Homo sapiens: one gene and its partners. The protein of the gene in region 1 purifies or fractionates together with the protein of each later gene. This does not show direct contact. Each region holds a gene or a part of one and is shown in the gene's direction. Other genes may lie near its edges. The genes, in order: RASSF1, LRP6, ITPRIP and MTHFR.

Region 1 (7,023 bases):
GTGCAGGCATTCTCGAGGGCTGCCTGGGTGCCGCGCGCAAGGAGCGTTCTAATTGCCGATTTCCCGGCGGCACAGAGAGGCTAATTCTGCGCGGGGGCTGGGAGGGGAGCCTGGATTGCCGGCTCCGCAAGTACTCCACCCGCTGCAAGCGGACCCGGGCCCAGGCTGACCCAGGCTCCGCGCACGCGCACTTCCCGCACCTTCCCGCCCTCGCCTCCGGCCAGAGGCCACTCTTGTGCGCTTGCCCGGACGCTGGCACCCGCCCCCGTTCCCTGTGGTAGGTGGGGTCTGTGAGTGGAGCTCCGGAGCGATGAGGTCATTCCTGGGGGCGAAGCGTGCGTGTCCCCGCCCCGGCGTTCCTGCCCCAATGAGACAAGAGCTAGATCCCGGCGATCTACGTTTCAGTCTTAACGGTTGCGGCGCGGCTCTGGCCCGGGCGCACGCGCACACTGACACGCGTACACGCACGCACGCGACCGGGGCGGTGGTTGGCGGCTACGGACGCGCAGGACTGGGGGACGGGCGGGTACGGCTATGGGCGAGGCGGAGGCGCCTTCTTTCGAAATGACCTGGAGCAGCACGACGAGCAGTGGCTACTGCAGCCAAGAGGACTCGGACTCGGAGCTCGAGCAGTACTTCACCGCGCGAACCTCGCTAGCTCGCAGGCCGCGCCGGGACCAGGTGGGAGCCAGGGGGTGCCGGCGGGCGGGAGGGGAAGCGGTCGCTGGAGCTCCGCCCTCCCCGGTCCGTTGCCGCGTCCTGGGTCGGTGGGCAGCCCCACCCTCCTGGCTACGTGGCTCCCCGCGGGTCCTGGCCGGGGACCTGCCCGCGGAACCGTGCGTAAGACCCCGATTCCACCGCCTAGATGCTGGGTGCCGGGGCCCCCTTGGTTTCTGTCACAGACAGGTTGAACACGGAAAAAGCAGCTGTATGGCTTGTGGTAGACCTGAGCCGGGCATTATCCAGCTATGACTAAAGCCGACCGAGCAGTTTGGACTAGCACCTCGATTTCCGCGTTCGAATGCTCCTGCTCCCTCCTTGGGGAGACTAGGGGAGGATGTGGAGAGGGAAGAGTCCTCGCCAGGAATTGAGAAGTATGTTTAGGAAAACTTGAGAGGCAGAGAGAGATCCTGCTCCTCCATCTGCACTCCTGTATGGAGCCAGCTGAGCCCTCACCTCTTCCCTGTTCTGGCCTGTCACCAGCTGCTGGAATGTGGAAGATTCTGTTCCCTTCCTCTAGGGTGGATCTGGAGAAAGATTTGGGAATAGATAGGAAAGAAGTCTTGTTTTGGACCATAAGCATTCAGGAGCACTTTACCCACAGGAAGGGGGAAAGCTAGATTATAAAATGCCTAAAGAGGTGGAAAAAGAGATCCAGGTTACTAACCCAGGACTGTAAGGTGTCTCGGAACCTCCTAGGTATCCCCATTATCGGAGAACTGTGTGCCAGATGCCATTGGTGTGACCACCAGGCTCAGAGAACCAGGCCTAGGCACCAGGAAAAAGAAACAGGGACTGTGAAGCTCAGTATGCCTGGCAGAAATGGGGCGGAAATCCTTATTTAAGTAAAGAAAGTGGAGTTGTGAGTGATGCTTCAGATAAAATTTTACAAAATTCCTTACAAAATGGGTGGTGCTCAGCACGCCAAAATCTTAGCCCAGAGCTTGGGTGCAAGGGTTGAGTTGAGTGTAGACCCCTGGGCTTGTCTTCATGTCAGTCAGTCCTGAGCCATTTTCCACTGTGGAAAGGTGGGAAAACCACAAGACACTAACCAATTGAAAAGGAGGGCTAGCCACGGAGGTGCACACCTGTAATCCCAGCTACTTGGGAGGGTGAGGCAGAAGGATCACTTGAACCTGGGAGGCAGAGGTTGCAGTGAGCCAAGATCGTGCCACTGCACTCCAGCCTGAGTGACAGAGTGAGACTCTGTCTCAAAAATAGAAAAGGAAGCCAAGTACGGTGGCTCACACCTCTAATGCCAATGCTTTGGGAGGCCAAGGCAGGTGGATCATTTGCAATCAGGAATTCGAGGTCAGCCTGGCCAACATGGTGAAACCCTATCTCTACTAAACATACAAAAATTAGCCGGGCATGGTGGTGTGTGACTGTAGTCCCAGCTACTTGGGAGACTGAATCACTTCAACCGGGAGGCAAAGGTTGCAGTGAGCCAAGATCGTGCCACTGCACTCCAACCTGGGTGACAGGGTGAGGCTCTGTCTCAAAAAAAAGAAAGAAGGCTGGGCTTGGTGACTCATGCCTGTAATCTCAGCATTTTGGGAGGCCAAGGCAGGCAGATCACTTGAGGCCAAGAGTTCGAGACCTGCCAGGCCAACATAGCAAAACCCCGTCTGTACTGAAAATACAAAAAAATTATCTGGCCATGGTGGTGTGTGCCTGTAATCCCAGCTACTGGGGAGGCTGAGGCAGGAGTATCACTTGAACCCAGAAGACAGAGGTTGCAGTGAGTCGAGACTGGGCCACTGCATTCCAGCCTGGATGAGAGAGCAAGACTCTGTCTCAAAAAAAAAAAAAAAAAAAAAGAAAGAATAGGAGGCTGAGAAGTCCCAAGTTATATGTTAAAAAAAAAGAAAAAAACATCAGTTTTAGGCCAGGTGCAGTGGCTCACACCTTTAATCCCAGCACTTTGGAAAGCCGAGGTGGGTGGATCATGAGGTCAGGAGTTCAAGACCAGCCTGGCCAAAATGGTGAAACCCCGTCTCGACTAAAAATACAAAAAATTAGCCAGTTGTGGTGGCAGGCACCTGTAATCCCAGCTACTTGGGAGGCTGAAGCAGAGAATTGCTTGAACCCAGGAGGCAGAGATTGCAATGAGCCAAGATCGCACCACTGCACTCCAGCCTGGAAAACAGAGCGAGACTCTGTCTCAAAAAAAAAACCATCAGTTTTTATGGACAGTGGTAGAGTGGAGGGTGGGTCCCTATGGTGCAGAAGGGAAATTCCATGGTCCTGCTGTGCATCCGACTGGGATGGCTGTTGAAATCCTCTTCCAGCAGGCAGCTTTGGAAACAGAAAAAGAAACTCTTCCTCCTTTAGAATCCTGGAAGGGCTGTGCAGTGCCTCTAATCCAAGTCTGTTTTCTGAGTGAAGATAGGGAGGTTCATCACCAGAAGGGAAGGGGCTGGAAATGAGGTCACTGCATCCCAGCCCAGGGCTCCTGGGTCATCCAGGAAGGGAAGAAGGAGCAAGCTTTCTCATTGTTAGGTAGGAGCTCAGAGCCATCACAAGAACAAGTTAGCACCATCCCTGTGCCCTCCCTGTTCTGCAAACAAAATGATCTTCCTTCTTGCCCTGGCACTAGAGTCTGTCTGGCATTTCTCCTGCCCCTAGTACTCCTCCCATCTGGGTACTTCTTCCCGTTGGTGTACTGAACAAACACATCCACTGCTTTATTCACAGCCTCCAGCCCTCATTTTCCAGGGCCCACACCATTTGTTTTTACTAACCCGACAAGGTTGCCCACTGTCCCCAGTAAGGTTTGTACTGGGGTTTTTACTCCAGTGCTCTTCTCCATCCAGGAGACCTTTGGATACTTGGGGAAGAAAATGAGCTTAAATTCCCACCCCTCCCCCTTTACCTTTTTCCTGTAAGGCCCTGGCCTTAGTTCTTAGCCCCACATCCTTGCTGGCTGCAGAATAGCAGCGGGTTCTGGGTAAGGAGCATTCTGCTAAAACGCTCCACCCTGCTCCCTCATCTGTCCTCTCCATTTGTCCCCATCAGATGGTTTAAGTGCTTAAGGGGACTCCAGGGCGGAGTCAGGGAGAACCCTGGCTCTCCTGGGCTAGGCACAAGATCATTCTACAGGAAACCTTGTGGGAATTCTTCTGGGACAAAGTATTGGTCAGCGCTGAGCTTAGCTGTGTCTGTGACACTCGCATTCTAACTAGGGCCTATCTGACGTCAACAGGAAGTAAGGCTGATGCAGTGGGGCCAAGGGAGTCTGGGAGAAGAAAGTCGGTTCAGAGCCCTGGCTGCCCTGTCCCACACTCCACCCTTCCGGCAAGAATCCAGTCCCTAGATGAGGTGGGGAGTGAGTGGTCGAGTTAAAAATCTCTGGGTCGGGTACGATGGTTCACGCCTGTAATCCCAGCACTTTGGGAGGTGAAGGCAGGCGGATCACTTGAGGTCAGGAGTTCAAGACCAACCTGGCCAATGTGGTGAAATCCCATCTCTACTAAAAATACAAAAATTAGCCGGGTGTTGTTGTGGCACGCGCCTGTAGTCCCAGCTACTCGGGAGTCTGAGGCAGGAGAATCGCTTGAACCCAGGAGGCAGAACTTGCAGTGAGCCAAGATCCAGCCACTGCACTACAGCCTGGGCGACAGAGTGAGGCTTCGTCTCAAAAAAAAAAAAAATCTTTGGGCCAAATCTCCAGACAGCACAGGCAGGTGCAGAAACCCACCAGGAAGCTGCCTGTGTACCTCTGGCAGATTGGAGCCTGGCCTAAAGCTGCCTTTTATGCAGCTTGGGTCAAGGTTAAACATCATGTCACAGTGATTTTTCTCACTATGTGTGAGACATGGAGAACTGGCTCCAAGTACTACTCTGTCCACTGGTGGCTGGACTACTGATGTGCACCACTCTCCACTCCTCTCACCCTGCAGTGGGTCATGGCCCCGTGCCGGGGCAGAGGAGAAAAATGGGCTGCCTTCTCCAGGACAAACCCTCACTCCAACTCAACTAGGGTGCTGTGATCAGAATGTGCAATTGAGGTGTGATTTTACTGATTTTTTTTTTTTTTGAGACCGAGTTTCGCTCTTGTTGCCCAGGCTGGAGTGCGATGGCACGATCTCAGTTCACTGCAACCTCCACCTCCCGAGTTTGAGCAATTCTCCTGCCTCAGCCTCCTAAGTAGCTGGGATTACAGGCATGTGCCACCACGCCTGGCTAATTTTGTATTTTTAGTAGAGACGGGGTTTCTCCATGTTGGTCAGGCTGGTCTCAAACTCCTGACCTCAGGTGATCCACCCGCCTCGGCCTCCCAAAGTGCTAGAATTACAGGCGTGAGCCAACGTGCCCAGCCTGTTTTTGTTTTTTGTGTTTTGAAGCAGGGTCTCACTCAGTTCCCCAGGCTGGAGTGCAGTGACACGATAATAGCTTACTGTAGCTGCAATCTCCCGGGCTCAAACGATCCTCCCACCTCAGCCTCCTGAACAGTTGGGACTACAGGCACACCACCACACCTGGCTAATTTTTTTTTTTCTTTTTTTAGTAGAGATGAGGTCTTGCTATGTTGCCCAAGCTGGTCTCAAACTCCTGAGGATCAAGTGATCCTCCTACCTTAGCCTCCCAAAATGCTGGGATTGCAGATGTGAGCCACCACACCCAGCCTGATTTTACTTTAAATGAGAGTCCCTCTTCAGAGTCCCTCAGCTGTTCCTGGCCCCTGGCCATGTGCCTTCAGTTGCCCCTGCTTCTGTGGTATCCTTAAGGCTACATTCAGTGCTGAGGCCCTAGGCAGGCAGCAGAGAGAAGCCAAATGATTCTGTCTTTCCCTTATCCACCCAGAGCATGCAAAACCAGGAGCAGTGGTGGGTTCAGGGTGGGCACCAGCTATGTATATGTACATCAGGGACAGGGGGCCAAAGGCAGTCAGTTTCCAAAGACTGCCCCAGAGGCCATTTTTCAGAGAAGCCCTGGGTTCCTCAAGGGCCCTGTGTCCATGCTGGCCCATCTTGCAGGACGAGCCTGTGGAGTGGGAGACACCTGACCTTTCTCAAGCTGAGATTGAGCAGAAGATCAAGGAGTACAATGCCCAGATCAACAGCAACCTCTTCATGAGCTTGGTGAGTTGACTGCTCAGGAAGGGGGCGTGGGGAGGAGCAGGTACCCAGCTATGTGCCTGATACTCAGAGGGTCACAACTGAGGTTATCTTGGGTGGGCGCAAGCAGTAATTTGTGCATACCCAGCCTAGCCCCAAGTAGACTGACATCTCACCTGGAACCTATTATCAAGGTTTGGTTTCTCTATTTCTTTAGAACAAGGACGGTTCTTACACAGGCTTCATCAAGGTTCAGCTGAAGCTGGTGCGCCCTGTCTCTGTGCCCTCCAGCAAGAAGCCACCCTCCTTGCAGGATGCCCGGCGGGGCCCAGGACGGGGCACAAGTGTCAGGCGCCGCACTTCCTTTTACCTGCCCAAGGATGCTGTCAAGCACCTGCATGTGCTGTCACGCACAAGGGCACGTGAAGTCATTGAGGCCCTGCTGCGAAAGTTCTTGGTGGTGGATGACCCCCGCAAGTTTGCACTCTTTGAGCGCGCTGAGCGTCACGGCCAAGGTGGGCTTCCCACCCCACCCTGCCCTATGTGAGGGTATATACGCATGCACCTGAGCATGCAGGGGCTGAGCAGCTGGCCCTGTCTCTGATCATTACTTCCCCTTCACAGTGTACTTGCGGAAGCTGTTGGATGATGAGCAGCCCCTGCGGCTGCGGCTCCTGGCAGGGCCCAGTGACAAGGCCCTGAGCTTTGTCCTGAAGGAAAATGACTCTGGGGAGGTGAACGTGAGTACATAGTTCTTAGTTTCTTGGTTGTCACTAGACAGGACTGATGGGCTGTAGCTACAGTAAGGCTTGGAGGAGGAATTGTGCTGGAAGACAAGCCCTGCAAAACAGTTCCAGGAGTGTATAGGCATTGTAACTAAAGCAAAGGCTTCCAGACCACTCATGCCAAAGCCTAGGGTTGTCCCAAGAAGCCAGGAAGAATTGCCTTGGTGCTTTGATCTTTCCTGGTGTGGAAAATCTTCTGGAGATGCAGGAGTCCATCTAATGACATGAGGAGGCCCCCTTCAGACTTTTTACCTGGAAGCTTTCTGGCTCCAAGGTATTAGGCCTGTGGAGTGAAATTAGACTCAGAATATGCCTGACCTGTCCACAGGTAATTGGGGAACATCTGACTTGGTTGTCTCAGTAAGGTGACCGTTTTGTAGGGCCCATCTTCCATACAAACTGCTGTCAGGGATCCTACCAGAGATCATTCAGCCAAGAGCCTGACATCAGAAAGCCCA
Region 2 (7,023 bases), on another chromosome or scaffold:
ATGTCAATAAAGGTATCCCAAGTAAGTCAACACTGAATAGTGCATGGTGAATGCACTGTGAATACAGTATGAATGCCAGAGTGAATTTAATAATGTTACTATTAGGTAGTTGGAAAGAGAAGGTACATCCTAGTTTCTTGAAACTTAGATGCAGAGAGGGTGTCATATAATCCCGATACTTTTGTGATTATAATCTCAGAGGAATGAGAGATTTATTGAGATCCCTTTTATCTGTTTTTTGTTGTTACTGACAACAACAACAAAATAAAAAGCATGCTAAGTGGAAAAAGTCCTGAAAAAGACATCAACTGTGTTTACAAGCTCTGTGACCTTACATGAATCTCAGTTTCCATAGGCAAAGCTCTCAAGATAAAATAAAAGATGTTATAAAACAAAATATATGATAAAATAATGTATATGAAGGTACATTATAATTTGAAAACAAATGTGCAAACTTAAGGTGATGATACTGTATTTTTAATTTTGCCACAATTGTTTAATAGAAGAGTTGCATAATCTAAAGTTGCCAGAATTTTTAGAAGGAAGAGTAATATGAGATTGGGGGGAAAAGTGGTCAAATAGAGGCTTATATGGAAAATTTGAAATCATTTTTATAAAATCATCATGTAATTTTGAGAAAGCATTGTAATAGGAATACCAAGATGACTCTTGGATTTTTATACAACAGGCAGTTGGATTTGTTATTTTTAGCTGAAGAATAAATGCATAATTCATCCCCTTCTCTTTTGAATTTAAACCTGAAGGTTATGAATACTGATGGCACTGGGAGACGAGTACTAGTGGAAGACAAAATTCCTCACATATTTGGATTTACTTTGTTGGGTGACTATGTTTACTGGACTGACTGGCAGAGGCGTAGCATTGAAAGAGTTCATAAACGAAGTGCAGAGAGGGAAGTGATCATAGATCAGCTGCCTGACCTCATGGGCCTAAAGGCTACAAATGTTCATCGAGTGATTGGTGAGTAACTCCAAAGCTTTCTTAGAAATGGGAACCAGGAATGAAAAAAGATGGAGATAGTCAGCAGTGTAAATTATTGATGTTTTGAGGCAATTTTGAAACCTTCTTTACTGCCCCCCCGCCTTTTTTTTTTTTTTTTTTTTTTTTTTTTTTTTTTTTACTGAGAAGGGACCTTTTAAACGTTGACTTACTACTCTAGCTACCCAGTTTGAATTGAAGGGCTGAATACACATGCACAGGCACACCTTCATCAAAAGAATTCAGTCTGATAGTATGAATAATATACCTTACTTTAAAGCTTACTGTGGTATTAAAGGAAAATACTTCACCATGCTTTTACTCCCTATTAATCTGCATATTACTTGTTTGTGATATTAGAATTGAAACTTGAGATTGGGAGCAAGACATAATCATAGGCATTTGTGAACCAAACGCTTAAGTAATTTAAAAGTGAAAATATGTTGAATGTATCAATGTGTGTGTCCTTCTGTGCCCCTTTTATAATTAATCTTTTAGGTTCCAACCCCTGTGCTGAGGAAAACGGGGGATGTAGCCATCTCTGCCTCTATAGACCTCAGGGCCTTCGCTGTGCTTGCCCTATTGGCTTTGAACTCATCAGTGACATGAAGACCTGCATTGTCCCAGAGGCTTTCCTTTTGTTTTCACGGAGAGCAGATATCAGACGAATTTCTCTGGAAACAAACAATAATAATGTGGCTATTCCACTCACTGGTGTCAAAGAAGCTTCTGCTTTGGATTTTGATGTGACAGACAACCGAATTTATTGGACTGATATATCACTCAAGGTTAGCAAAAGAATTGGAATATTAAAGCTAGGGACTAAAAGGGAGAACTTCTAGAATTTCTGAATCTTCATGCTGTGACCCACCTCCCTCATTGTTTGACAGGCAGAGTTCAACAAAAACCCTCAAGTTTTTTTTTTTTTTTTTAAACGGTGTCTTGCTCTGTCACCCAGGCTGGAGTGCAGTGGTGCAGTCTCGGCTCACTGCAACCCCTGCCTCCCAGGTTCAAGCGATTCTCCTGCTTCAGCCTCCCGAGCAGCTAGGACTACAGGTGCGTGCCACGACGCCCAGCTAATTTTTGTATTTTTAGTAGTGACGGGGTTTCACCATGTTGGCCAGGCCGCTCGAACTCTTGACCTCGTGATCCGCCCGCTTCGTCCTCCCAAAGTGCTGGGATTACAGGCGTGAGCCACCGCGCCCAGCCAAAACCCTTAAGTTTTTAAGTGAAGGGAAAGGCCCATTCAGTATTTTATTAGATGCTTTTTAATACAGATACTTTGCCAGAGTGTTTTAAATCTGCAAGCCATAGTCTTCCTCTACTTTCTTCCATTTGAAAATGATGAATGACATTTTCTGCAATTAGCTGAGTAAGGAAATGTGTGCTTCACGTAAAATGGCTGTTGATTTACTTTAAAAAAAAATTCGTGATTTACTTTAAACAAAATTTTAGGGCCTGACTGAGGCGGAAAAGGCCAACAATGAGTTATTCTTTATTTTCTTCTTCCTAGAATAGTTACTGAAAAGAATACCAGGATAGCCAGAGAGGAAGCTCCCAACCTATAAATCTGAAGAATAATCTTTTCTTCTTCCAGATTGTTTTGGGCTTGTTTCAGATAACTCATGTAAACTTTTTTGTAATATGCGAAAACATGGGGTGTTGGAGTCAGAGTTGGATTCTAATGGTGTTCAGTTAAATTTATTAAGTGAATAAATGAAATAAATAAATTTTGGTTTGCATTGGGTGATGTTCTAAATTTCCTCATCTTGAAAATGGGGGGTGGCTGGGTGCGGTGACTCAGGCCTGTAAATCCCAGCACTTTGGGAGGCTGAGGCACATGGATCACCTGAGGTCACGAGTTTGAGAACAGCCTGGCCAACATGACAAAACCCCGTCTCTACTAAAAATACAAAAATTAGCTGGTCATGGTGGCGCATACCTGTAATCCCAGCTACTCGGGAAACTGAGGCACGAGAATCACTTGAACCTGGGAGGCAGAAGTTGCAGTGAGCCGAGATCATGCCACTGCACTCCAGCCTGGGTGACAGAGTGAGACTCTGTCTCAAAAACATAAAATAGGGGTGATGCCATACTTGCAGGACTGTTGTATTAAGTGACAAAATCTACGGACAAAACGTACTTAGGATAATACTTGATAAGATGTATCTATTATTAGTTTGAATTATGATTTTTAAAAGTGTTATGGGACTCAGTGCTATAATGGTAGTATAATGGTTACATTCATTTATATGGTAGGCATGATGACTTGCCATAATCTTAAGCACCTTTAGAAAATTGACCACTAATTAAGATCTGTAGCATTGTGGTCACAGCTTTTCCACTTGATTACTGATAAATTTTAAAAGTAAAGTCATTCTGCTGTTAGTAGAATAAATTTTTGGTGCATTAGAGTTTTAAAATTTCTCCCCTGAATTGGCAGTAAAACTTGAAGTTGCATTTATTAGAGATTGACATCAAATTTTTCTGTGCTTGCAAGTTATGTGAATTTTAATAGGAAATAGTATGCCTCTTGGCACTTCTGGATCCTCTTGCCCCTGACAAAAACCAAACCAAACCTTCTTTCTGGATAGGGTTTAGACTTATGCCATATGACTTAGTTGTTAATGTTCTTTTGCAGACCATCAGCAGAGCCTTTATGAATGGCAGTGCACTGGAACATGTGGTAGAATTCGGCTTAGATTATCCAGAAGGCATGGCAGTAGACTGGCTTGGGAAGAACTTGTACTGGGCAGACACAGGAACGAATCGAATTGAGGTGTCAAAGTTGGATGGGCAGCACCGACAAGTTTTGGTGTGGAAAGACCTAGATAGTCCCAGAGCTCTCGCGTTGGACCCTGCCGAAGGGTAAACAGCTTTACATGTGCATTCTTTGCAACTGCAGTGTACATTTCGGGGAACATGGCATAGTTACAGATGATATTCTTAATGTTTTAAATAATACGTATTAGGAATCTGAGAACTAAATGATAGATGAACTTTTAAAAACACTATTGATATTTTGCTGATTTGAATGAATAATTATTAGCTAATTTTACTCTTGTCGTAATTAACTTTAGGTGAAGAAAGAGGGGAATGGGTTAATAAATGTTACTGATGAGTATACTGATATGTTAAGTATATATACCAAGAGGTATTATCCATCTGTAGTTGCTTGCACTCCTTCCCAGTTATACTAGATTCCAAGCCTATTGAAGTAAACCCACCGAAACAATGTTGTGAGCTAAGAAAAAACTACATTTAAAAAGCTTTATTTTGGAGTATTTATTAATTCAAAATGGATAGTTTGGTTTGATCATTATTATAAACTGGCAGTAGCTTTGTTATTACAAGATAGAATAAACTGTTCACAACATGATGTTTTTCAAGGGCGAGTGTTCCTTTTTACAAGAGTCAGCAAATTTTTTAAAGCCGGCAGCTAAGAAATCTGAAATCTAAAGAAAAATTCCACTTATAAAAGAAGTCAACAGGCCGGGCGTGGTGGCTCACGCTTGTAATCCCAGCAACTTTGGGAGGCCGAGGCGTGGGCAGATCACAAGGTCAGGAGTTCGAGACCAGCCTGGCCAACATGGTGAAACCCCGTAACTACTAAAGATAAAAAAAAATTAGCCAGGCATGGTGGCATGTGTCTGTAGTCCCAGCTACTCTGGAGGCTAAAGCAGGAAAATTGTTTGAATCTGGGAGGTGGAGGTTGCAGTGAGCCGAGATCGTGCCACTGCACTCCACCCTGGGCAACAGAGCAAGACTCCATCTTGGAAAAAAAAAAAGAAGTAAACAGTGTGAACATATAAATATGTTTACTGTATTTGCTACTTAAAATAATTTCCCTGAAGTGACATTGATTCCATGATTAGCTAGTAATTCATCTAGTCAGCACTGACATATTGTGGTGATCTTTGCTCTAAACATTAGCTGCCAGACAGATAAATTTAATAGTTGGGACTAATTGGTTGCTGCTGGCAAGTATGAAATTTCTCTCACAGTTGTTTCTCTTTGGCTCTTGTGGTGTGCACATGCCTGTCAAATGACAAGTGCAAATGCATATAAAGGCAGGACACCTTCAGTTTTCAGAAAAGCATGTTCATACATTGCTACCAAGTCAGCTATCAGCTGACAGGCTGATGAGTGAATATATGTCCTCAGGTATTTCGTGAGAGCTGGCATGTGATGTGCTTTTTTAGTTCCAGTATTCAAGAGTCTCAAAAACTAGCACCTCACTAGTTTACTTGAAAGGGCATTTGGCCAAGGATTAGGTTCTAGTTCTAGCTCTGTCATCTAACTGGCTTGAAGACATTAGATAAGTTGTTCACATTTCTTGTAGTGTTTTGGGCTCTTCATCTATAAAAAGCCTATACTGTAGGATTACTGTAAGATTAAAGTGCAAAACTCAAAAATGGAAAATAACAGCAAAGTAATTATTCTAAAATTTCACAGAGATTGTTGTAGCGTAGTGTAGTGTTCATTGCCCAGTGGACACATCAAGGGGTGAGTCGTTGTTCTTACCATATAGTATGCTCCCTTGGACCATATGACCAAATACATTTTCAAGCTTTGCTTTTGACTTCAGTTAAAGGCTTAGTATTTATAATTACCTTTCATGTACTTCTGCAACTTATTTTGAGGAAGAGTTGATTACACAAGTCAAAAAGTAAGTTCAGCATATTAAAAACTCAAATTAGTTAATATTCAAAAGTATATAAAAATATTTTACTCAGAAGTGAACCAGATTCTGAGACCAGAGCTTTAAACCTTTGCTGTTTTCTTGAATGTTAATTTTACAAATGCCAGTACTGCAATAAACTGTTGGTTTATTTCCAATTCCTAGGTTTGGATGGAACAAATGTATTGGAAAGACTAAGGAAAGCTGACTCACTTCCTTTTTGGGATATGGAAAAAAATATTTAGTTTAGGGTGCCAAAATAATTGAAAGCATTGTAGCCGTGATTTTGTTTAACCCATTTCCTTGATTTGCTGTATGTTTTCTTTAAATTTATTTAGTTACTTTGCATGAATATGACTCTTTCCCCCAGATAATAAAAAATTGAAATGTTAAATATTTATTATTTTGAATTTAGATTTATGTATTGGACTGAATGGGGTGGAAAACCTAAGATAGACAGAGCTGCAATGGATGGAAGTGAACGTACTACCTTAGTTCCAAATGTGGGGCGGGCAAACGGCCTAACTATTGATTATGCTAAAAGGAGGCTTTATTGGACAGACCTGGACACCAACTTAATAGAATCTTCAAATATGCTTGGTAAGCTTTACTACTTTTTACTCAAACAGTATATTCTTTCCATGCAAATATCAGTGGCTGCTATTTATCATTGGTTAGATACTTTTAATACAACTTCATATGAATGTGTCCATTCTTCTTCTGTTCTGGAATTGTATCCTGTTTGTTATTAATAGTGATCCAGGTACTTGGATTCATCTTTTTATTATGTGAAAGTTTCATTATTATTGGACTTGTAATGAAATTTATAACTCCCTAGATACTCCTGAAATGACTTTTGTACCAGTAAAATATATATATTTCCATCTTTTCCTTCTATAGTTCAAGAAGAAAAAGTGAACTGTAGACCCTTATATAGAGAAAATAAAACCACATTTAAAGTAGACCATTTGCAAGAATTTTAGGAAACTGAGTGATTTGTAGCAGGAATATAAGTTTGAAGCATGGGGTCAGAAGATAGATTGATTTCAGAGAATTGGTCTCGTTTTAGAATTGCTTTTAAATGAATTTTTCTATTTTAAATTGCTTACAATGTAATGTTTTATATGTTAGGGCTTTTTTTTTTCTTTTTGCCAGCAAGACACTTGTATTCTCACATATTTCATCACTCTGCTTCTCCCCTGTCTACTGCCTTTCTGAAAATAGGGCTCAACCGTGAAGTTATAGCAGATGACTTGCCTCATCCTTTTGGCTTAACTCAGTACCAAGATTATATCTACTGGACGGACTGGAGCCGACGCAGCATTGAGCGTGCCAACAAAACC
Region 3 (7,023 bases), on another chromosome or scaffold:
GTAAGTGCCCCCAGGTGTGGCTCAGAGGGAAACGGCGGTGGCTGCACGCAGGGTCCTGACCTAGGCAGAGAGCGAGTGGAAGGAGGTGAGACAACTGTCCTGACCTTCCAAACCCCTAATCCCCATCTGTGGTCTCTTGCTTCCTTGTTGAAGTCCCATTCACCCACAAATGCCCTTCTCAAGTTCGTCCAAGAACCCTTCCTGAAACTCCATTTCACAGTTCCATATACATGATCTCTTAGTTTCCACACCGTACAGCTGAGCGCTTAATTAGCTGGAACCGAGCATTTCACTATGTACTGTCGATAGGCACTTTAAACAAAATAGGCTTCTCATCAGTGAGGAAGTCAAGATGCCTCCTGGGAGGGGCCAGCTGGTGCCCAGCAGATTGCTCAGAGGGTGGTGTTTACCTGGATCACGTCACCTGTCCCAGGGCATGGCTCTTAGCTGTGCCCGCTCAGAAACCCAATTTCCATAATTTTCAGAGTGGTTTGGACTCAAGCTACTGATTCACCCTGAGAAAGCTCCCAGAAGAGGGTGTACGAATCAGAATGCTGGTTTATTAATTTGCAAGGAGACTTCGCAAACATCACACAGACTGAATGTCGTCTCTTCCCTGCGTCCTAGACAAGCCATATGGGAAACCAAAGACCAGAAGGTGGACTGCGCTTATCAAAGCTGGAGTCAGAACCAGGCAGGAGCAGCATGGGGTGAGGGTGGGGGACAGTGATGTCCAATAGTGCAGGGCTTTGTCTACCTCTGCGGCCCTCTCACCAGCAGAAAGATAGCTGCCAGGTAGACTGGATACTCAGGTCAGCCTGGCTATGGGCATCTCCTTGGCCAGTGCCTCAAGGGCAGTATTTCCCTGAGAAATCCTGGTAGCATTTCTCCCTTTCCTCTCTCATAATGTAGTAATTTTTTATTTTATTTACCTATTTGTTTAGTGCTTTGCAAGCATTAGCTCCCAGAGACATAGATTTGCATTTGCGTAAATTCGATAACTACTGTACAATCTCAGAGTTGTAGGGCCAGGCCATGAGAGTAAGTGCTATATGCAAATCAAGAGGATGATCCGGTAACCTGGATGGATCAATAGAAAGCCAAGCATAGAGCAAAGACACGTGGTCCCCAATCAGCATGGAGGCTGGGCCAAGGCTGGCCAGTTGTTGCATCCCCTGCGTAGGCCAGGGGGTGAAGCATTCCTAAAGCAGTGCCTGCTTCGGCTGCCTCAGGCAGCCTGCCCTGCTCAGCTGGCCTCTTTAGATTTAAAGGGCTCTTTCTGGTCTCTGTCCAGGCCCTTCATGGCTCATCTTTAATGAGCCACATCTCCAGGTGCCCAGAGCCAAGGCGGTGTGACTGCACGGGCTTTGAAGTGGGGCAGACTTGAGTTGAGTCCTGGCTCCACCACTCGGTGGTTGGGCGTTCTCAGTAGTTGGGCAGGTGCCTTGATTCTTCAAGTCTCGGTAACATCATCAGTAAAATGGGGATGACCCTCAGGGCTGTGGGGAGGGTTGACCCAGACGATGCACAGAAGGCTCTGAGCACCGTGCCTGGCGCAGACTGGAAACCTGGCCAGTGTGCGCTCTTCAGGACAGCAGAGGTCGGTTGGAGGTCTGCATTCTCTGCCGACTTGGGCCCCAACTTCCCCATCAGGTCACTGCTCCCTCCTCTGAGGTCTGGACAAAGGACAAGGCTGTAGGGACCTAGACTGTCCTAGACGGGGAGGACATCTATCCTCAGTGGTCTTTCCAGCAGTTTGTTTGGAGCTGCTCATCCTGATCTTTTGGCTGACTCTGGCAGAGGGAAAGTCAGATTTGAGGCCTGAGCTCTAACAGGCATCCAGAGAGGAAGGAAGGGTAAGGAGCTCTTCTGGGCGAGGAAAGGGGTCATTTGGGAGTGCCCCAGAGGCCTGTAGACCCCTCCTCAACAGTTTAGGACCTGTGACGTTTCCCCACAGAGAGCACATCCCCCCTCTATCTGTTAGGCCCACCCCGTGACATCAGTGAAACGGAAGCACCCTGCAGGTGACATCACTGTTGCTCAGGGCAACGCCTCCACCCTAAGGCGGACGGGGAGGTGAAAAATCGGCCTCAAGTGTGAGACGCATGTTGAAGGGAAGGGACATAGAAGGTGTAACGTTCACAGGTGTGTTTCTCAGAGGCTGGGGAGAGGATGGGCCCAGTTAGCGGCAGGGTGAATAGAAGAGGGAGGTGCTGCAGTCTCAGATCTGGGCTGTGTCAGTTGGTGGTGGGTCTTTAGGCCTTGGGTCAGAGAGCGCAGTGCTGACAGCTGCAGTCTCCTTCAGTTCTCTGAACGGGACTCCTTAGGGGTCCTCCTGCAGCCTGGATCTGTAAGGAGGGTTAGGGGAAGGGCAGGCTGGAGCAGTGATGGGGCCATCAGAAAAGTGACTTTCCATTCTTCAGCCTCCCCACAAAAGAGAGTGAGAAATAGGATGCTCACATCCTTATTACGGGGGCTTCATTGATCGAGCAGCCATTGTGTATCTGTTATGCATGGCCTGTGCCAGGGATTCAGCGGCCTCGTGGAGCGTTATGATGAAATGCACATGGAGAGGAAGAGTGTATGGAATCCACTGCCCCAAGAGGCAGGACCAACTGGAGATAGGAATCCCGTCTCACAGTTCACCTCACTCAACTTAGCATTCCCTGTGGAATTCTAGATGGGTTAAACTAAATTCATGGAATGCTTTCAGTTGGGTGTGCTTGAGATACACTTGCTAATTTGGGAGTGGAGTCAGAGGGGGCAGCCATGGATGTCCATCTTGTCCCTGGGATGGCACTGTTTACAAGGCTGAGGTCACTCAGCAGTTCTGATGCTCTTAACTTGGTGACCTGTGTTTCCGCCACATCTTATCAGGTGATGCCTGCTGCTTCTCCTAAGCAAGGGCTGCCAAATGTCAGCACAGGAGACGAAAGAGGCAGGAAAGGGAGGACTCCCTGCCCTGAAGAAAGATGAAAAACTAGATGATATAGTAGGTGTCTCTGTAGAGGTTTCAGGAATCGCCTTGTCCTTCCACTTGAAGGCACCTGATTAAAGTTTTTGTTTTGTGCAACTAGGCATAACTTCAGGTGCTTTTCTGATGTCCAGCATTTCGGTGGCTAAAGTCATTGCCCTAATTCTTGTATGCACCTAGCTTTTTCAGGTTTATAAATAAAAATTAGAGTATCATTAATCTGCAGAATCCACCGTTATGGATATGACATTGTTCATATAAGTAGAATGGCCTTATTAAAAAAAAATAGTGGCTTCATTTACTGAGCAAAGCCCCATTCTAGGGGTTTACACATATTTATTTCTCCTCCTCACAATGGCCCTTCAAGGTGGGTGTTATCCTAGTTTTACAGGTGAAAGAACAGACTCAGAGGGACTTGCCCCAAACGGACAACAACAGAGAAGAGATTCGAATTTAGATTTGCTCTCTCCCAGGGCCTTGGACTCTTTCTGCCACCTCAGGCGTCTGTCTGGACACTGTAGCCCAGAACACATACAGATGGCATAAAGAATCCCACAAAGTTTTAAGTGTCAATACTGAGAAAACAGCAAGCAGACCACCAACTCCAGGCCTGAGACTTCTGGTCCCTTCCTGCTGTCTCACTCTGATATTAGCAGACCTAGTGAGCTTTGGAGACTCCTTCTGCCAAGAGATTCTGTGAGTGTGGCCTGAGCTATCTGAGGGTGAAAGGAAGGAAAGGCTTTCCCTTCCAGCACTGTTTGCTTTTCTGTTTAATAGGCACAGTAACAACCAGTTCCTGATAATATTCAGAGCACTTTGCAGTCCTCTGCTGGAAGTCCCTAGGAAAAATACAAAGCCCCGCAATTATCAAATGACTCACTTCCAGGTGCATAACACAGTGGGACACTCACTGCCTGGGAAGAGGGGCTCAGCTTGGAAGCAACCCTGGGCTGCTACTGCTTTCTCTCCCTTCTAGGTCATTTCCCTGAAGCTGATGCAGGAGTCCCCCCAACTCTCGCCCCCTCCTCCTGTATCAAAGCAGCAGGGAAGGTGTTGTCATTATTTTGGCCCTGCCCGCTAGTGCAAAACCATGTGCTCATAACATACTGTTCTCATGGGAGCCGGCTTCAATAGCCTCTTAGCAGCAGCCGGGGGACCCGCCTGAAGTTTACGAACGCGTCCTTTGTTTGCTGAGACTTTGTTCCAAAGTTCCCAAGGAGGCAGGGGTGCAGCATGCCTGGGCTGGAGGGTAGGAGAGCAGGGGCTGCCTGGGTCCTACCCCTGTGTGCTGCCCCAAAATGTCCCTAATGTACCCATGCCGCTTCCTGACATTTCACCCCAACACATGCCTACCTGCCAGTGTCAAGAGAGCCCTCACTCCCTTTTTTGCAGAGAAGGCTTTCCATTCCTTTTATCTCAAATAGCCCAGGCCACACTCACAGAATCTTGGTAGAAGGAGTCTCATAAGTTCATTAGGTTTTACTCCCTGCTTCATGCCCACATTTCATCTAGATTGTCACCTACCCTTCCCTAAACAGTCCGGGTGAGGAAAGTCCATAGGTACATGTCTAATGTTTCACAGATACCAGGTCACTGAGCAGCACAGCTCGTGGCTTCATGGGAAGAGTATAGGCTTGAAAGTCAGATAGGTTTGGATTCAGATCCTGGCTCTATGATGTTGGTGAGTGGCCTCACCTCTGTGCCTCAGTTGCCTTATCTGTAAAATGGAGATAAGTGCCTGCCTCAGAGGTTTGATGTGAGAATGATACATGTAAAGCTTTATTGTGCAATGCTTAAGCCTCAATAAATGGGATGCAGTGGTTGTAATTCATTAAACCCTCCCATGGTGTGTCAGGGCCCTGAGGCTTGTCCAGTTTTTTCCTGAAAGAAGAATTACTTCTCTGCTCCTTCTCTTACTCTGTAATCCTCTGTTTATTTCTACAAGAAGCTTGAGCAAGAAGGGAGGTGTCCACGGCAAGGCAGCTGAGGGTCAGAAAACGTGTCAGGGTTCATTCCTGGGCCATTTTCTAAACGTTGGCAGTGAGTCTGCCTGCAGTTACATGAAGGCCAGTCCAGACCAAACGGGGCTGCAACCGTCTCTGTCTCCAGGGCTACGTCTGGAAGGGATTTTGCTGGAAGGGATTTTCCAAGGCACTTACACTGTTAGCACTTTGTTTTTCTGACTGCAGTGCCCCTCCCAGGAAGAAAGAATGTAGAAGTTACTTTATCCAGAGCTTTCCACTTCACTCCAGGAATTTCAAATTCCTGCTCCTGGGAGTAAAGGCAGTGAGGTTCTTTTCCCAATCCTAACTCCATTCATGTATTCAGCAAGCATTCATTATAGCAACTACCCTCTTCCAAAGCTGGGTACTCAGAACCTAATGGAAGAGCTGTCAGTGTCAATGATGCCAGATTGGAGGGAGTAAGGGAGGGTGCTGCTGACCTTCCTAGGTCTCCAAACTTCCTCCTCTTCCTCTGTGTCAGCCCCTGGGGCCTTTAGAAGAAGACAAGGAGGTGGAGGAGACAACTTAGTCATACTCCCCAGGCTTCTGGAGGAGCTGCAGGGATGTTGTTCACCCACTTCTTCCCAGAGGACTCCTTAACATGCAACCATGACGATTTAACAAATCAAAAAGGAGACATGACCGCAGCACCAGTACCAGTGCCAACAGCAGTATCATTTACCAAGCACTGCCGAGTGACTGTGAGATGGTCCACAAGGCCATAAATTGGACACTATTGCCATAGCAAGTTGTAGAGCCAAGATTCAAACCCAGGCCTTCTGATTCCAGAGTTTGACTCCTTAGCAATGGTTCTCTAAGCCTCTGCAAACTGTTAAGCTCTTCTTAGCTGATGAGCTTTGGGCTGTTTCTTTCTCGGTGACAGTAGGAGTGGAAATGAGCCTGTGTGAACTTGACACTATCAGTGGCTGCTTGCTGCCCACCTCAGTCTGACTGACGCACATATGAGTCATGGGTCCATGCATTCAGCAGGCATTATTTGGACACCTACTGGGTGCCAGCACAGCCTCGGTGGAGCACCCGCATCACACCTTATTGCTCCGTCCCTGTGACTAGAAAATGATGTCATAGTAGGGTTGTTTTGTGCAATCCGTAGAGAGTGTGACTCTGAGTAGTCATAGGTACTTCTGGGAGCAATTTTGCTAACTGTTCCTAGCCTTACCATGTGGGCCCTCTGCTCTCCAGAGAGGAGGAGGACTGGTTTGCTCTGACTAACTGGTGTGGGAGGGCTGGCAGAGGCCCGGCTCTATTGTTCAGCCCAGATCCTTGCAGCAGAGCACAAGCAAAGACGCTCTTAATTTTTTTTACAGCTGGGCTGGCCTCCCCTTTGTCTTTGTGTCTGTTACTGTTCCCCTTTATTGAGATGAAAGGGGTTTTTAGATCTTTGCAGGGAGAGTGTGTGTGTGCGTGCATGTGTGTATGTGTGTGTGTGTGTGTGTGTGTGCATGCGTGCAGGAGGCCCACAGCGCTTCTCTTCCTCTCCCCTCCCCGCTCTCCCCAGCCCAGCTGGGGCCCAGGCTTTGTGTCAGGTACCGCCTAAGCCGCAGGGGGACTCGGGTAGAAGAACAGTCTGGGATTTCTTTCACTGTGTGGGGCCTAGAATCTCAGGAAGCCAGGACGTGGGTAAGAGACCAGTGGGGTGGGGAGGCTGAGGTGGGGAACAAGCCTTTCCGAGGTCGTGGACAAGGCCTTGGGGGGTTCATCCTCCCCCATCTCCTAGAGGCAGAGTGTCTTTCTAAGCTGGGCTCTCTTTGTTCCCATCCAGGGGTCAAACAGAAGGTGGCTGCTGGGTGCTGGCCCTTTATTTAATTCCATCCATCCTAGTTTCTCAGTGAAAGGGGGAAAGTGGAAGGGGGCGGGGAGTGGCCAAGGGAGGGCTTTGTTCCCTCCTTGTTTTCCTTTGTGTTTACTCCCGGTTCTGTTCCAGTCCCTTCCCCTTTCCATTGAGTCAGTGTGTCTGCTATTGTGCAGAGCCTGCGTCTAAGCGTGCAGCCTCCCCTCCCTGTCCCACTGAGAAAGTGTGGTTTT
Region 4 (7,458 bases), on another chromosome or scaffold:
TTTAATTCTAAGTCTTACGTTCTGAGTGTGCCTCTTTCTAATTCAAAGGTACAATATAAATAGACTGTGTGACCTGCATGAAAACATTCCTGTTTGCAATGGCACATCTCACAGAAAGTTACCATTTTTCAAACCACCTATAATGAGAATGGATGTCAAAATGGGATTCTAACATTTTGTAAGACCCTAAATTTATCAAATAAAGAGTCAAATATGTGCAATGAACTCTTCCTGAGACAGGAAGAAGGGGCACTTTTTAGAAAGATATTCAACAGAAGGGTTTTCTAGTTGACTGACTATCAAGGTAGAGAAAACCCTATAACTCCATTCATTAAAATATGACTATTAATACCTTACTAAATATCCTTCTACATCCTTACCCACGTTTTTATACACATGCTTTTAACACGTGTTTTAAATAACAAAAATGAGATTCCACTAAATCAACTATTTTAACCTGTCCCACTCACTCCCCTCTTTATTATACTTTTTGTGTCAAGTTGATTTATTTATTGAATAAATAAAATCCAGACTTTTCTGTTTAAGTGCCTGAATTTGTTCTTACACAAAGCAAGTGCTCTCAAGAAGCTCATTCTTGAAGATGGTTGAGAAATATCAATGACCAATATCAAAAGAACATTAACCCATGAAATGTACATGAATATGGCCACGCGTGGTGGCTCACGCTTGTAATCCCAGTACTTTGGGAGGCTGAGGTGGGTGGATCACCTGAGGTCAGGAGTTCAAGACCAGCCTGACCAACATGGTGAAACCCCATCTCTACTAAAAATACAAAACTTAGCCAGGCATGGTGGTGTATGCATGTAGTCCCAGCTACTTGGGAGGCTGAGGTAGGAGAACAGCTTGAACTCAGAGGCGGGGGTGGAGGTCGCAGTGATCCAAGACCGTACCACTGCATTCCAGCCTGGGCGACAGAGTGAGACTCTGTCTCAAACAATGACAAGAACAACAAAAATTTACATGAATATGCATATCAGCTGAAGGCAAGCACATTACAAATGTAAGTACAATTTAGTAGAAGGGGTGAGGGAGCCTGGGTGTCAATGGGGAAGCCTTGGTGAGCTCCTAGAAGTAGGATGAAGGCTGTGAGACAGTCTCAGTCCTGGTGATACAGTCAGGATGATGTAACAGGGTTCAGTGAGGGAGTGCAAGGTGACAGAACAATATGGAGTATCTTATACTAATTCCTGCAAACTTCTCAACTATGTACAAGAAAACAAATACTTACGAAACAGAAGAAAATGGCCAGGTATAGTGGCTCATACCTGTAATCCCAGCACTCTGGGAGACCGAAGCAGTATCACCTGAGGTCAGGAGTTCGAGACCAGCCTGGCCAACATGGTGAAACCCTATCTCTACTAAAAATACAAAAATTAGCCGGGCATGGTGGTGGGCGCCTGTAATCCCATCTACTCGGGAGGCTGGGGCAGAAGAACCGCTTGAACCTAGGGTGGGGTGGAGGTTGCAGTGAGCTGAGATCGAGCCATTGCACTCCAACCTGGGCACTAAGAGTGAGACTCCATCTCAAATTTAAAAAAAAGAAAAAAAAAGAAATAGAACAAAACACAGCAGTGGATACAGTGCTTTTTGGTTCATTCAAAGCAGTCCCATCAGAGTAGCATATTAAACTATACAAACGGCTCCAAATGGCAAAATCTAGACAGTAGAAAATCCCAGGTCCTAATTATGTTGTCAAATAACTTACAAAAAAAAAAAAAAGATGAAGGAAGAAGCTACAGATTAAAAGAGATTTAACAGATTTATCAAACAAATAAAAAAGGACTTTTGGAACCTAATTCAAATAAAGTTAAAATACATATGACATTTACAAGAAAACTGGAAAATCTGGACAGTAGATATTTGATATCAAGAAATTCCTAATTTTTTAGATGTGGTAATAGTATTGGGTTATGCTTTTTAAAAGTCCTTATCCATTAGAGATGCATATAGAATTATGGGTGAAATAATATGATGTACAGAATTTCTTTCAAAATAACATGGGAAGGGCGGCCAGGTATGGTAGATCATGACTGTAATCCCAGAACTTTGGGAGGCTGACATGGGAGGATCGCTGGTGTCAAGGAGTTCGAGAACAGCCTGGGCAACATAGGGAGACTGTCTTTACTTTAAAACACACACACACACACACACACACACACACACACACACACACAAACACACACACACATACAATAAAAAATAATAATATGAGAAAGGAGAAGTGGATAACGAAAGCACAGACAAAAGAAGACTGGGCTTGAGCTAAATCACTGTGGAAGCTGTGTGATGAGGACAAGGGGTTTCAACAGATTATTCTGTTTTTGCATATAGTTGAAATCCTTCATAATAAAAGTTAAACAAAAAAGTGCTACAAATCCTAACGCTGACACTAAATTCTACAGCATGAAGAATTTATGGAAGAGTGAGACTCTGTCAAAAAAAAGAAAAGGTTGTGGAAAATTACCTAATGATACAAAAAGTATAATAAAGGGGGTGAGTGGGACAGGTTAAAATAGATGATTTAGTGGAATCTCATTTTTGTTACTTAAAAAAAGCATGTATCATGTATATAAAAGCATGGGTAAGGATGTAGAAAGATACTTAGTAAGGTGTTAACAGTCATCTTTTAATGAATGGAGTTATAGGCTTTTCTCTACCTTCTTTATTACGTTTAAGAATTTAATGATAAAAAGTCACGCATGTTGTTTCACCCCAGCAGTGTTGGCTTTACTAAAAACACATACTCTAAGAATCCCATACATGAAAGGTGGAACTTAATCAAGAACATGTCAGAGAGAAGCTGCTTGAGCAAGAAAATATCTGAAAAGCAAGCTCTCCTAGAAGAGAAGCAAGGCCTCCTTAACAGTTTATAAGCACACACCTGTTAGGGGCACATACTGCCTGCCAGTGCCTTTCACTCTAAGTCTCTCTGTAAGCTGTAAAAGCAAACAGTTTAATGGCAAATACATACTCTATCCAGGTTAAGGTGCCACAGATTTATAAACGTGTAAAAACACCAGACCTTGTTTTGGGGTTAAGGTGAGAAAAGGGCTTGCTAAACAGTCTCTTTCCTAGAAGGAAGTTCTCTTACCCACTCACTCCCTGGGACAGAAGGTCAAAGAGCATCTCTGGTTGGAATCATAATGCTTCGGCCTGAAGTGACCAGGCCACTCACTACTTTAGTTGCCCAAGCAGTATCAAAGGAGCTCACCTCATAGTCTTTCCTTGGAAGAATCTCATCCTCCTCCTCCTGTGTTTCTCCAAGGATGGTCTAGAAAAACAGATCCGCAGAGGGAGCCTTTTTTAGTGGTTAGGAGTGGAAGGAGGCAGAAGTATTTACTGAAATCAGTGGCTAGCTTCTAAATCATCTGGAGCCATTATCAAATAGGAACCAGCCCTCAAAAAAAACCTTTCAGGGGTGAGGGACCATGTGGGTGAGGATCTACAGCCATCAGCTGAGCTCTTCATTTCCACTGATAGTCTCCAAATAACCACCCTCCTCTTCAGGACACCTCAAAGATGTCCAACGCCAGCTGAAAAGGGGGGTAAAAATGCAGGTTCCATTTGACAGTGTGACGTATCTGAAATCAGAAAGGACTTGTCAACTCTGGGAACACAACTCAAGTTTTCCCAGGATGCTTTGCAGGGGGAAGCTGGACTGTCAGTGACCCAGAAAGGGTGAGGGATAGAGTGAGAAAGGACTGGAGAAGCTAAAACAGCAGCATGATAAGCACAAAGTCCTGTGAGGAAGCTCATTCTGAAAACGCTTGTTTCATTCCAAACTCTTTTCAGATGGAAATAAAAGGAAACATGGGTGGGATTTACTGGAGCTGGCCTGGATTCTCCCTCAGATTCCAGGAGGGGTTATGAGAAAAGACCCCAGACTTAGGCACGTGAAGCAGGGTAGACGCTTCGAGAGCCCTGGCTGCGGTCCCCAGGCCCCACCCGCTGCCACCTGCGGGCCCAGATTGGCCCGGCCCCACCCCCGGCAACGCCTCTCTCAGTCCCTTAGCAACCGCCCCCTCCCCAGGCCGACTCCGCCGGCTTCTTACCAGCTCCTCGGGGGTGCGGGTCTCACGCTCACCGCAGCAGCAGCACCACCTGCAGCAGCAGCACAGAGACCCCCTGCACCCCGCCATCTTCCTCCTTTACTGCCACTCTGGACCCCTCTACCAACCCCCTCCCAGCCAGGATCTGCGCCTCACGTGACTGGCCCCGGGACGGTCACGTGGCCCTCTCGAGCTCTGGGACTGAGACCAGGAGTGGCTGCAGACGGGTGGGGCGAGGACTCGCGTCACATGACGATAAAGGCACGGCCTCCAACGAGACCTGTGGGCACGGCCATGTTGGGGGCGGGGCTTCCGGTCACCCGCGCCGGTGGTTTCCGCCCTGTAGGCCCGCCTCTCCAGCAACCTGACACCTGCGCCGCGCCCCTTCACTGCGTTCCCCGCCCCTGCAGCGGCCACAGTGGTGCGGCCGGCGGCCGAGCGTTCTGAGTCACCCGGGACTGGAGGGTGAGTGACGGCGAGGCCGGGGTCGCCGGGAGGGAGATCCTGGAGCCGGCAAACAACCTCCCGGGGGCAAGGACGTGCTTGTGGGCGGGGAGCGCTGGAGGCCGGCCTGCCTCTCTTCTTGGGGGGGGCTGCCGCCTCCCTTGCGCACCCTTCGCGGGATTAGTGTAACTCCCAATGGCTACCACTTCCAGCGACCGCCAACCCTCAAGCGAAGACTGACTTTGGCTCCCTGCCTGGACGGAGGGGCCCCTGAGCCAGGGGTGACGATCCCGCCCCTCTGACCGGCCCAGGCCCGTGTCCTCGCCCCCATCGGTGACTCAGTGACCTGGTGACTGGATTCTCGGCCACCTGGGCGCCGAGACGGCTTCCGGCTCCTGCCTTTTAAACCTGCCTCCCCGGCGATCACCTGGAGAAGAGCGCTGGGCCCGGGGCACTGCGGTCCCTGGCGCCCACTGCGTCCCGCTGCGCACGGGGGTCCGCCGGGACCTTTCTGGGAGTCGTAGGCTTAGTATCCCAGTGCTTGGCGCAGACTAGTTGTTCAGTAAGTGGCAGAGGCTTATTTTGAGAGAGTGGCAGCACCTGGCCCTTTGGCGCTCAGTGAATGTTGGCTATCACCGTGTGCCAAACTCTGGGGATACCCCAGGCAGGACACCGGTCCTGTCTCAGGGAACTGGGGAAAGAGAAAGGAGACAGGCCTTTTCACCCACAGTTACAACCCAGGGTGCTATGGGAGTCCAGCTGATAACGGATAAATCGTGGGAGTTGGCTTACAAATATGGCACATGCGTGGCATATACTAGGAATGCAATAAGTCTTTGAAAATCAGAGGGTTTACAGGTGGTTCAGCTTCCTCCTACTCTAGGTTCTGTTCCAGCAAGCAATTAACGAGGTGCGCCCTTAAACGCTGGAGGAAAGCCAACTGGCTGCTCTTGCTGTTACTCCTCCCCCCCGCCCCCGTTCCTCACTCCCCACAGCCATCCCCACTGAGAATCTGGAGTTTGAGGTCAGAATGAAAGAGAGCAGCCCTAGAGGGAGAAAGCTTTGGCCCAGGGTTCTTAGTCTGGAATCAACTCCTTGTCTTTGGATGTATCCCCGTGTAGTCTGTGCACCTGTGTGTGTATTTCAGGGGAAGGGAGCAGTGCATTTAATCAGATTGTCAAAAGAGTCTAAGACCCCAAATGGTTAGGTACACAGGGTTAGTGGTGGACAGTCTGAAAGAAATGAACCTCACCTGGGCTTTCCTCTGTTGTGCCATGTCACCACACACCCATTCACTACTGTGTGTTTGCCCATTGCTGTGCAAGTGTTTTGTTTGTTTTTAAGTGTTTGTCTTATTTTCTTAACCAGACTGCCAGATGACCCTATGCCCTCTGTTGGCCTGTCTGTGCCCTGGTGGCTCTGATTACTTGTTTCTGTTTTTTGTTTTTGTTTTTTTTTTTGAGATGGAGTTTTGCTTTTGTCGCCCAGGCTGGAGTGCTATGGCACAATCTTGGTTCACTGCAACCTCTGCCTTCCGGGTTCAAGCGATTCTCCTGCCTCAGCCTCCAGAGTAGCTGGGATTACAGGCGCCCGCCACCAAACCTGGCTAATTTTTATATTTTTAGTAGAGTCGGGATTTCACCATGTTGGCCAGGCTGGTCTCAAACTCCTGGCCTCAGGTGATCCACCCACCTCGGCCTCCCAAAGTGCTGGGATTACAGGTGTGTTTTTTGTTTTTTTAAGAGATGGAGTCTCGCTATGTTGCCCAGGCTGGCCTTGAACTCCTGGGCTCAGGCAATCCTTCTGCCTCAGCCTTCCCAGTAGCTGGGTCACTGTGATGATTTGAATTGAATTCTGTGATGTGTAAGAAGAGCAGCCTGCAAGGCAAGCACAGATGGGGCAGCTTTTGTTCTGAGAAATTCGTGCCCTTACTGAACTTGGGTCTGGCTATTTTTGGAACATGGCCAGCATCAAGTTCTAACCCACAACACGGTCTTTTTGGAGTAGCATGAATTCAGGAGAAATCTGGCTGCATAGTCAAGCCCTCACCCCTTCCATCCTGTGCACGAACTGTTTCAAGTAACAGATGTTCCAGGCAGAGCCAGCCAGAGTGAGCTGTTCCTTCTCTGGAGGGTGATCTGGTATCCCTGAACGCCTGTTGGCCTCATCTCCACCAACCCCTGCAGTCTCTGCCCCTGAGTCCCCCTCCTTCCATCCGCCTCCCCTTACTAGAGCCTCAGCCCTCCCTCCTCGCCTGGAAGCCTTGCCCCCGCCCCCTTGTGCTGGCTGGAGCTCAAGCCTCTTCCTTTGTCGCAGCTCCGCCCAGTTGAACACACCCGCTGGGGAAGGTGCCTCTGTTCCCTCCCCACGCACTCTGGGCCTGAGCTGACAGAGATGGACCATCGAAAAGCCAGGGTCCTCCCAGCTGGGCACTACTGCCCCTCGCTAGGAATATGGGCCTCGCAGGTCGGCAGCGTGAGGTCCTCTGTGCCACCTTCCATCAGGTAGCTGTCACCGAGGAGCATGTTGCAGTGCCGGGTGGGGGCTGCCTTGCATGCAAGGAGCCTGGCAGCAGCGGAGGGCAAGGCTTTGAGTGAGGCGGCCCGGACAGCCATAGCTGAGGAGCATGGAGCCACTGGGAGGGGGCAGTGTCACCTTTTTTGGCCTTCTTCCTGTGTGGAAATACAGCGCCTCCGGCTTGAACCTGCCACTCAGGTGTCTTGATGTGTCGGGGGTGTGGCTGCCTGCCCCCTGATGCTCCCTGCCCCACCCTGTGCAGTAGGAACCCAGCCATGGTGAACGAAGCCAGAGGAAACAGCAGCCTCAACCCCTGCTTGGAGGGCAGTGCCAGCAGTGGCAGTGAGAGCTCCAAAGATAGTTCGAGATGTTCCACCCCGGGCCTGGACCCCGAGCGGCATGAGAGACTCCGGGAGAAGATGAGGCG

What was found.
Region 2: the proteins of RASSF1 (region 1) and LRP6 purify together in Homo sapiens (affinity purification with mass spectrometry; 3 studies listed by BioGRID and IntAct, with this or other methods). This does not show direct contact.
Region 3: the proteins of RASSF1 (region 1) and ITPRIP purify together in Homo sapiens (affinity purification with mass spectrometry; 4 studies listed by BioGRID and IntAct, with this or other methods). This does not show direct contact.
Region 4: the proteins of RASSF1 (region 1) and MTHFR purify together in Homo sapiens (affinity purification with mass spectrometry; 3 studies listed by BioGRID and IntAct, with this or other methods). This does not show direct contact.

The regions. Positions count from the first base shown.
Region 1 is NC_000003.12:50,330,831-50,337,853, reverse strand, and holds part of RASSF1 (ras association domain-containing protein 1), read left to right. Parts: exon of another isoform or gene 1-343; intron 344-403; exon of another isoform or gene 404-534; coding exon of another isoform or gene 535-681; intron 682-722; exon of another isoform or gene 723-1,094; intron 1,095-5,699; coding exon 5,700-5,804; intron 5,805-5,997; coding exon 5,998-6,295; intron 6,296-6,404; coding exon 6,405-6,520; intron 6,521-7,023. UniProt on the Homo sapiens protein: Potential tumor suppressor. Required for death receptor-dependent apoptosis. Mediates activation of STK3/MST2 and STK4/MST1 during Fas-induced apoptosis by preventing their dephosphorylation.
Region 2 is NC_000012.12:12,159,037-12,166,059, reverse strand, and holds part of LRP6 (low-density lipoprotein receptor-related protein 6 isoform b precursor), read left to right. Parts: intron 1-764; coding exon 765-981; intron 982-1,497; coding exon 1,498-1,787; intron 1,788-3,640; coding exon 3,641-3,867; intron 3,868-6,095; coding exon 6,096-6,280; intron 6,281-6,904; coding exon 6,905-7,023. UniProt on the Homo sapiens protein: Component of the Wnt-Fzd-LRP5-LRP6 complex that triggers beta-catenin signaling through inducing aggregation of receptor-ligand complexes into ribosome-sized signalosomes.
Region 3 is NC_000010.11:104,328,460-104,335,482, reverse strand, and holds part of ITPRIP (inositol 1,4,5-trisphosphate receptor-interacting protein precursor), read left to right. Parts: intron 1-1,577; exon of another isoform or gene 1,578-1,856; intron 1,857-1,984; exon of another isoform or gene 1,985-2,145; intron 2,146-6,490; exon of another isoform or gene 6,491-6,618; intron 6,619-7,023. UniProt on the Homo sapiens protein: Enhances Ca(2+)-mediated inhibition of inositol 1,4,5-triphosphate receptor (ITPR) Ca(2+) release.
Region 4 is NC_000001.11:11,802,965-11,810,422, reverse strand, and holds the start of MTHFR (methylenetetrahydrofolate reductase (NADPH)), read left to right. Parts: upstream 1-4,458; 5' UTR 4,459-4,535; exon of another isoform or gene 4,536-5,076; intron 5,077-6,885; exon of another isoform or gene 6,886-6,908; coding exon of another isoform or gene 6,909-7,018; intron 7,019-7,293; coding exon of another isoform or gene 7,294-7,306; coding exon 7,307-7,458. Other genes in the region: CLCN6 (H(+)/Cl(-) exchange transporter 6), read right to left, coding at 3,233-3,292, 4,074-4,160. UniProt on the Homo sapiens protein: Catalyzes the conversion of 5,10-methylenetetrahydrofolate to 5-methyltetrahydrofolate, a cosubstrate for homocysteine remethylation to methionine. Represents a key regulatory connection between the folate and methionine cycles.